Homo sapiens: one gene and its partner. The protein of the gene in region 1 purifies or fractionates together with the protein of each later gene. This does not show direct contact. Each region holds a gene or a part of one and is shown in the gene's direction. Other genes may lie near its edges. The genes, in order: RGSL1 and D2HGDH.

Evidence for each region.
Region 2: the proteins of RGSL1 (region 1) and D2HGDH fractionate together in Homo sapiens (co-fractionation; one large-scale study listed by BioGRID). This does not show direct contact.

The regions. Positions count from the first base shown.
Region 1 is NC_000001.11:182,448,455-182,452,370, forward strand, and holds the start of RGSL1 (regulator of G-protein signaling protein-like), read left to right. Parts: upstream 1-1,691; 5' UTR 1,692-1,711; coding exon 1,712-1,724; intron 1,725-3,916.
Region 2 is NC_000002.12:241,737,314-241,741,129, forward strand, and holds part of D2HGDH (D-2-hydroxyglutarate dehydrogenase, mitochondrial isoform 1 precursor), read left to right. Parts: intron 1-3,719; coding exon 3,720-3,777; intron 3,778-3,816.

The DNA.
Region 1 (3,916 bases):
CTCAAGTGATCCACCCACCTTGGCCTCCCAAAGTGCTGGGATTACAGACGTGAGCCACTGCATCTGGCCCCAATATTTTCTATATTTACCTGATGATAATAATTATCTGGGGGCACTTGGAAAATATACAGACTCCTGAGCCCCACCCCTTCTAAATCAGAATTGCCAGGGGACGGTCCCGGCAATTTAGGTTTTTAACAACAACCCTGTCAATAAGGTAATTCTTATTACCACACATTTGGGAGACATCTGGTGCCCTTTTCTTTTGGGAACTAGAAGGTCATGAAAGGGTCAGGGATCTAACCATTATGCATTTCAAGATTTAGCCAGTGATACTGGCTTTTCATCTTTACTGTTTTTAGAGTGACCCTATTTGGTTGTTAATGGCTCCAACAGTCAGCCTTTTTGAACTGTGGGAAAGACGGTGGGGCAGCAATTAGGACTCAAGGGTAGGTGCACACAGCTTGATTGAAAACAGTCTGAAAGCATTCCATCTTAAGGAATGTGAGCATATATTACTACTGTATATGCCATTATTTTAGGAGGAGACCTTGACTCTATTTATTTTGCAAAAGAGGTGATAATTCAAGGAATAATATGATATTGTAGAATCATGCAGTGCTTCACACTGAACTCTCTTAAGATGTGTGCATGTTAAACTGACTAATTAATAAGGTGAATAAGGTAATTGATAACAGATTGAAGAAGTATGGTAAGCTACAATCTCATCTTGCAATACATAGAACATCAAGATGTAAAGCAAGAATCTCTTCTCACTAAAATCACTTTAAAATGCAGTATTTGGTCTTTATATATTCTAAAGAAAGTACAGCACTTTTTCAAATGTAAGTGATATTGTATTGACGATTCATTATTAACAATAATCCTTCCAGTTTTCAGTTTTCCCTCCACCCCCCATAGGAAAGCCTTTTGGACATTATATAAGCTTCCCTACAATCCCAAGACTTAAAAGCCCTCTCTGGGTGTGACACTGAAGAATTCTATTCTCAGTAATTCTTGGCTAAAGTTTGAAGGATTATAGGGCTTTTGGTCTCTCATCTTAATATTTACTTCCTATTAGGGAAGAACAGGAGAAATGAAGAGTTGTTTAATGAGAAAACCAAGAGCCTGAAGAGTCTTCAGAGGAAGGGAGTTCAAACCTCTTGGAAGCTGATGTTTTAATTTTAATTTTTTAAAGATGAGGTTTCACTCTGTTGCCCAAGCTGAAGTTCAGTGGTGTGATCACAGCTCACAGCAGCCTTGAATTCCTGGGCTGAAGCAATGGAGGTTGATGTTTTAAATGGGCAGAATATCCAGGAGTTACTGCTTATTAAAATTACATCAAATGTAACCGTTTACAAGACCCTTAGGAGCTGAGTTTAGCAATGCAAAAGTCACCCTAGCATGGGAGAGGTTGGAGCAGACAAGAGATCTTGGGCACAATTATAAAGAACTTGTCAAATAAAATAGTATGAACTAAAGGCTTAAGTATAGGAGGAGTCTTGTATGTCCAAGGGGATTCAGCAGATTAGGTAAGATAAAGACTTATCTTCAGATTAAGGCCTACACCAGAGGTAAGTAGATCACTGCCAGATAGAATCTGGAACCCCTTAGAGAAGGTGTCATTACGTGTTCACAATGGATATAGTTCTATTGACTGGGGGGTAATTCTGCCCCTAACAAATTACTGTGTCAGGAAGAGCATGGCAACATGAGCAGTGCTGGTGAGTCTCTGCCAGGGATGTCTCCAAGGCCTTGAGTCTCTCAAATAAGGCAAACCATTCATCTTCCCAATTGTTAATAGATCTGAGCCATTCAGGGGCACCATGGGTGACTTTTGTGTTATTCATGCCTTTGTTTTCCTTCTCTTTCTCCTTCTTCCCCTTCCTCCTACCTTCTGCCACCAGATCTTTGAGGATAGTACAGGGCCTTATTCATAAGACAACTAAGGCAAGAGGGAGGAAGTAAAATGTGGATTGGGCCACCTCTCCTCCAGAGAGAAGACTGGTATGGGGTTTGAGATTATGCAGTGATTTCATTTGTTGCCAAGTCAATATTATTATGGCGTGGAATGGGTGCTAAAAGCCTTCTCAAATTATTAGGAAGTTTGAAGGCAGAACAGGTAAGAAGGAAAAACAAGAATGGAGAAATGAGAGGATGAGGAAGGGAAGGATGTACAGAGCCTTGTCTCTATATCTCCTTAAGACTGTTTTGGCAATGGCAAGCCCTAGCATAGTCAGGCCCCTTGCCACCAGCGGTGTGTGTAGCTGTGAACAACAATCACTAGGGAATTTCTGCCAAACCCCACTTTTCTGTATTCAGATGGGCTCAGTAATATACTCATTCAACAAATCCATGTTAGACTCTATGAATGATAAACAAACAAAAGTCCAAAAGATTGAAAATCATTGGCTGGGAGCGTTGGCTCACCCTTGTAATCCTAGTACTTTGGGAGGCTGAGGCAGGTGGATTACCTGAGGTCAGGAGTTCAAGACCAGCCTGGCCAACATGGTAAAACCCCATCTCTACTGAAAATACAGAAATTAGCCAGGTGTGGTGGCATGCACTGTAATCCCAGCTACTGGAGAGGTTGAGACACAAGAATCACTTGAATCTGGGAGGCAGAGTCTGCAGTGAGTTGAGATCTTGCCACTGCATTCCAGCCTGGGTGACGGAGTGAGACTTTGGCAAAAAAAAAAAAAAAAAAAGATTGAAGATTATCTTTTGAAAGAACAATTTATTCCACATTTACAGAACTTAGACATTGTGCAAACACTTTTAGAGCCTAGAGGAAGAAAGGTGAAAAAACAAAGTCCCTCCTCTCACACGCTCAGTCTGATGAGGAAGACAGATATATCGATGGATAAAAACAGTCAGACTTGTTAATTGTAATAATGGAGGATATACGTGATGGTATAGGGAGATAGTGATGAATTCTACCATTGCAGTAGATTCTACCTTTCTTGGCTCACCAAGATTATATGTAAACCAGTTCTTAATGGATGACTATTAATTTGTGAGCTGACTGTGCTTAAGAAAACATTTGAAGCAATGGGAATATGGGAACAAAGACATGGAGGTTTCAAGTGAGAGTACCTAGCACATGCAGGAAACAGCAATGCCTTGGCTTAGCTTGCAAACAGGAGGCAGAGTGCGCAGAGAGGCAGGAAATGAGACTGGGAGGAAACTCAAAAGCCAGATGGGGTAAAGCCTCAGATACTATACTAGAGAGTTTGGACTTTACCTTCTAGGACATCAAGGAGATTTTGAAAGACTTTAACAATAATAATATCAACAGATTATGGTGGCAGTACGTGTAGGGTGGTTGGAAGGGCAAGAGGTGGGAGCTAGGGAGACCATTTAAGAAGCTGATGCAGAAGTCTAGGTGAGAGAGCATAGAGGCCTGTAATGGAAGAGTAACTTTATGGATGGAAAGGAGAAGACAGATTCCAGAGATAGGTACAAAGAGAAACCATACAGCATGATCCCCCATTGCATGTAGGGACATGGAGGGGAGAGAGAGAGAACAAGAGAGTAAGAGCAAGAGTAAGAGAGATTGAGAGTGAGAGTGAGAGTGAGAGACAGGGACAGAGACAGAGAGAAGAGCCTCAGTTTTCAGGATTAGATAATTTATTGAATGATAATTCCAGTAACTGGGACTGGGAATGTAGGAAAAGGAGCAGGTTGGGAGGCCTGGACACATTGAACATGTTGAGATGAAAGTGCCTGATGGATATGCATGTAGAGCTGGCCCATAGCTCATGTATATTTAAAACCAGAGTGAAGGAGAGAAGCCTGGACTGAAAACACAGATTTTGGAATCACCCATATGGAATAGATTAAATAAATCAAGGACTGCTTATAAAAAGAAGAGCAGAGGGCTTGGGAGGGGTACACATAAAACACACATAGCACT
Region 2 (3,816 bases), on another chromosome or scaffold:
GGAAGCAGACGTATCTTTTTGGAGCCCATTAGGTAAGATGCAGGGCTCCTGGCCAACAATGCCTGCTCCTCTCCTCCCACTGCACTTCTGCCCAGTGGCATACAAGTCTGTGCACGAATGAGGGACTTCTCAGCCTCTGGGGCTGGCACTTCCTTTTGGTAACAGTGCCCAGTTTTCTCTTTTTTTATTTTTTTGAGATGGAGTCTTGCCCTGTCACTCAGGGTGGAGTGCAGTGGCACGATCTCCCCTTACTGCAACCTCCACTTCCTGGGGTCAAGCGATTTTCCTGTCTCAGCCTCCTGAGTAGCTGGGACTACAGCTGGGTTACACGCCTGTAACCCAGTTCTGTGGGAGATCGCTTGAGCCCAGGAGTTCAAGACCAGCCTGAGCAACATGGTGAAACTCTATCTCTACAGAAAATTAAAAATTAGCCGGGTATGGTGGCATGTGTCTGTGTGCTAAAATAGTAAAGCGAGGTAGAAGAGAATTGGTTGACTCTTAATTTACAACAAAATGATATATTTAAACCTGTGGAACTGGCACCAGGTCCTGGGGCTGAACATAGGGTGTGCTGTCATTGGGAAGATCTGGAATTGTTTTTATCTTTTTTTTGTTGGCCCTTGTAGAAGATTGAAATTATTAAGAACACTCAGAAAGTTTCCAGACCGTGTAATCTGGGAGTGCAGCGTATGTTAAAACAGTTCAGAAAGTTAGCAAGTTGAACTGGGGTCTAGGCTCAGATAATGGAAGCAGCTCTTTCCCTGCAGAAAGGCTGGGAGTCACTGGAAATCGCTGGACCAATGGTCACTGTGTAGGAGCTCTCTTGAGTGGAAGGGCCCCCACCCTCACCCTGCTCCCGAAGTAAGGACCCCTCTGGGGCGATCTCAAGCTGCTGCCCTGAGTGCACACCATGGCCCAGGGCCTGTGGGCTCACGAATGTTGTCCCCGGAGGCAGGTGAGGATGGACGCCCACCCTGGGCTTGGCTAAGTCGGGCCCCAGTCCTGGCTCAGCACTGCTGTCTGGGTGGCCCTAGGCAGATGACCCTCAGTGCCTGCCCTACAAAATGGGACTTGGAGCCACTGCCTCAGGAACACCGTGCGGGTAAGTGGGGCAGGAACCTAGCGTGAGCCTTGAGCACAATGCTTGGGTTCCCGTGCTCCCAGCCTGCTCGGAGGCCAGCACCCTGGGCTATGCCGCTGCTGCCCTCATGGGCAAGGGACCTCCCCGGGGCATGCAGGAGCGGGGAGGAAGCTGTAACTGAGATTGAGGGGTGACCACGCTCTTCCTCTCCTCTGCCTTGCCTGAGCCTGACTGGGCAAGAACTGGCTGTCCCCCTGGGTCCCCGCTCTCTGGTCAGCACCTTTTTGGGAATCCGTGGCCATGGACACCCTGTCCTGCTGCAGGGCCGCCCCTCGGTGTCTGTGTGTGCCTGTGGGAGGGCGCCTTCCTCTGCGTCCTGCTGCCCCGAGTTTGGTGAGGGCGAGGCTGAATTTCACTCATGTTTGAGTCCACAGGTTTGGTCCTGAATGTCTGCTCAGTAGGTGTTTGCTGATGTGAGGCTTAGTTGTTGAATTTTAGGTGAATTATCCCTTCATGTGGCTTGCTTTTGGAGAGAGAGCTTGTCTAGACTTCTGAAAACTCATTAAGCATCATATTCAAAAATCTAGACCATTTGCTCAGGATGGATGCTGCAGACGTTTAGTGAGCACGCCTGCACTGGCAGGAAGGTGGGAGCTTCGCGGTGTGAAAACAGGCTGGGCCCCTGTGTCACCTCTGGCGGCCTTGCCCCCATGGCCCCCTCCGTCTTTGTGGGGCTCCCATCGTTAACACTGGACCACCGGGAGGGAGCCCTCCTTTTCATCTTTCCCGTTAGAAGGTAAACATCACAGGAGTGGGAAATTCTGTGCTCATTCTGTGTCTGGAACGCGGCCTGGCCTGCATTCTTGGGGGGTACTCATGTTTGTGTTGAGAACCCTGCCACAGGCGCGTCACAAGTGTGTCCGAGTCGAAAGCTTTGCCATGAGTCCTGGGGCTCCTGAGCCCACTCGGGACAGGGACGCAGTGAGCGCAGGTGCCAGGGTTCCCTCAGGTGCCGCACTGAAGTGTCGGGCCGAGGCCCAGGTGCCCAGCAGGCCCCTCTGCAAAAATTGCTCATTTGATGAAAGAGACATAAGTGGCTTTCTGATCAGAAAAGCAAGGTGGACACCACAGCCTGGTTCTCAGAGCTCCACGAAGAGGTGACAGGCTCCCGTGACTGCACCTGCTGCCTCTCTGCAGCCCCCATCACCTGGGAAAGTCGTCTCAAGGAAACCCAAAGGCAGAAAGACGCCTGCTCACTTGGGGCAGCAGTGGTTAGCAACACCGGCGAACTAGCTCAGAGGGCTCCCACTGGTCACATCCAGGCATTCAGCAAATAAGGCGGCCAAGACTTATAGCCCAGTGAATAAAGTGAGAAGCCGAGAGCCCACATCACTGTGAATAAGCAGCTACATAAACACGTCAGTGAGAGCGAAGGGAAAGCCCTCCCTCGTGGCAGAGTCAGCTAAGAGGCCGGGCGCGGCGACTCATGCCTGTAACCACAGCCCTTAGGGAGGCTGAGGTGGGTGGATTGCTTGAGGCCATGAGTTCAAGATCAGACTGGGGAACATGGTGAAACCCTGTTTCTACTAAAAATATCAAAATTAGCCGGGCATGGTGGCAGGCACCTGTAGTCCCAGCTGCTTGGGAGGCTGAAGCAGGAGGATCGCTTGAGCTCAGGAGGTTGAGGCTGCAGTGAGCTGTGATTGTGTCACTGTACTCCAGACTGGGTGACGGAGTGAGACCCTGTTTCAAAAGAAATAAAAGGAAGTGTAGGTGGACAGATGGATTTAGGAAAATCACCAGTTGGCAACCATCCTAGTAACTGATTTGGTCTAGGATAATCAAAGATGTTAATGGGTGAAGCTTGAGGAGCAACAGGATGTCCACATAGTCTCAAGCGTCTGCTTGTGAGGTGCACACACATCACGAAAGGAAGTGTGGTGGCGTGGCAGGAGGGAAGCCTGCAGACATCCCGTTACCGTGGGACCGAGCCGACCTCACCACAAGTGGGTGGGCAACCTTGGAGCTGCCAATGCCTGGCCTGTGGGACTCTCATCCATGGGCCCAGCCTTACCCACTTCTGCACACTGTGCCCAGTGCCCGGCCCACCACCTCCCATGTGGGACCTAGTTTTGGTTTTTTTGAGATGGCTTCTTGCTCTGTCACCCAGGCTGGAGTGCAGTGTTGCGATCATAGCTCACTGCAGCCTTGACCTCCTGGACTCAGATGATTCTCCCTCCTCAGCTTCCCAAATAAGATCACTCTCTGGGGGCTGGGCATGGTGGCTCATGCCTGTAATCCCAGCACTTTGGGAGGCCGCAGTGGGCGGATCACGAGGTCAGGAGTTCGAGACCAGCCTGGCCAATGTGGTGAAACCCTGTCTCTACTAAAAATACAAAAATTAGCCAGGTGTGGTGGCGGGTGCCTATAATCCCAGCTACTTGGGAGGCTGAGGCAGGAGAATCGCTTGAACCTGGGAGGGAGAGGTTGCAGTGAGCCAGGATCGTGGCACTTCAGCCTGGGCAACAGAGTGAGAGTCCGTCTCCAAAAAAAAAAACTCGCTCTCTGGGGCGAGTGACCACTTGCCTCATCTGCAGCTCCCCCCACGCTGTCTCATAGGATCTTCTTCCTGTCACAGGCTGTAGCAAGGTGCTGCTGAGGCCACGGACGTCGGAGGAGGTGTCCCACATCCTCAGGTGAGGTGGTGGCTCCCGGCTCCCCCAGCCTTCCCTGTT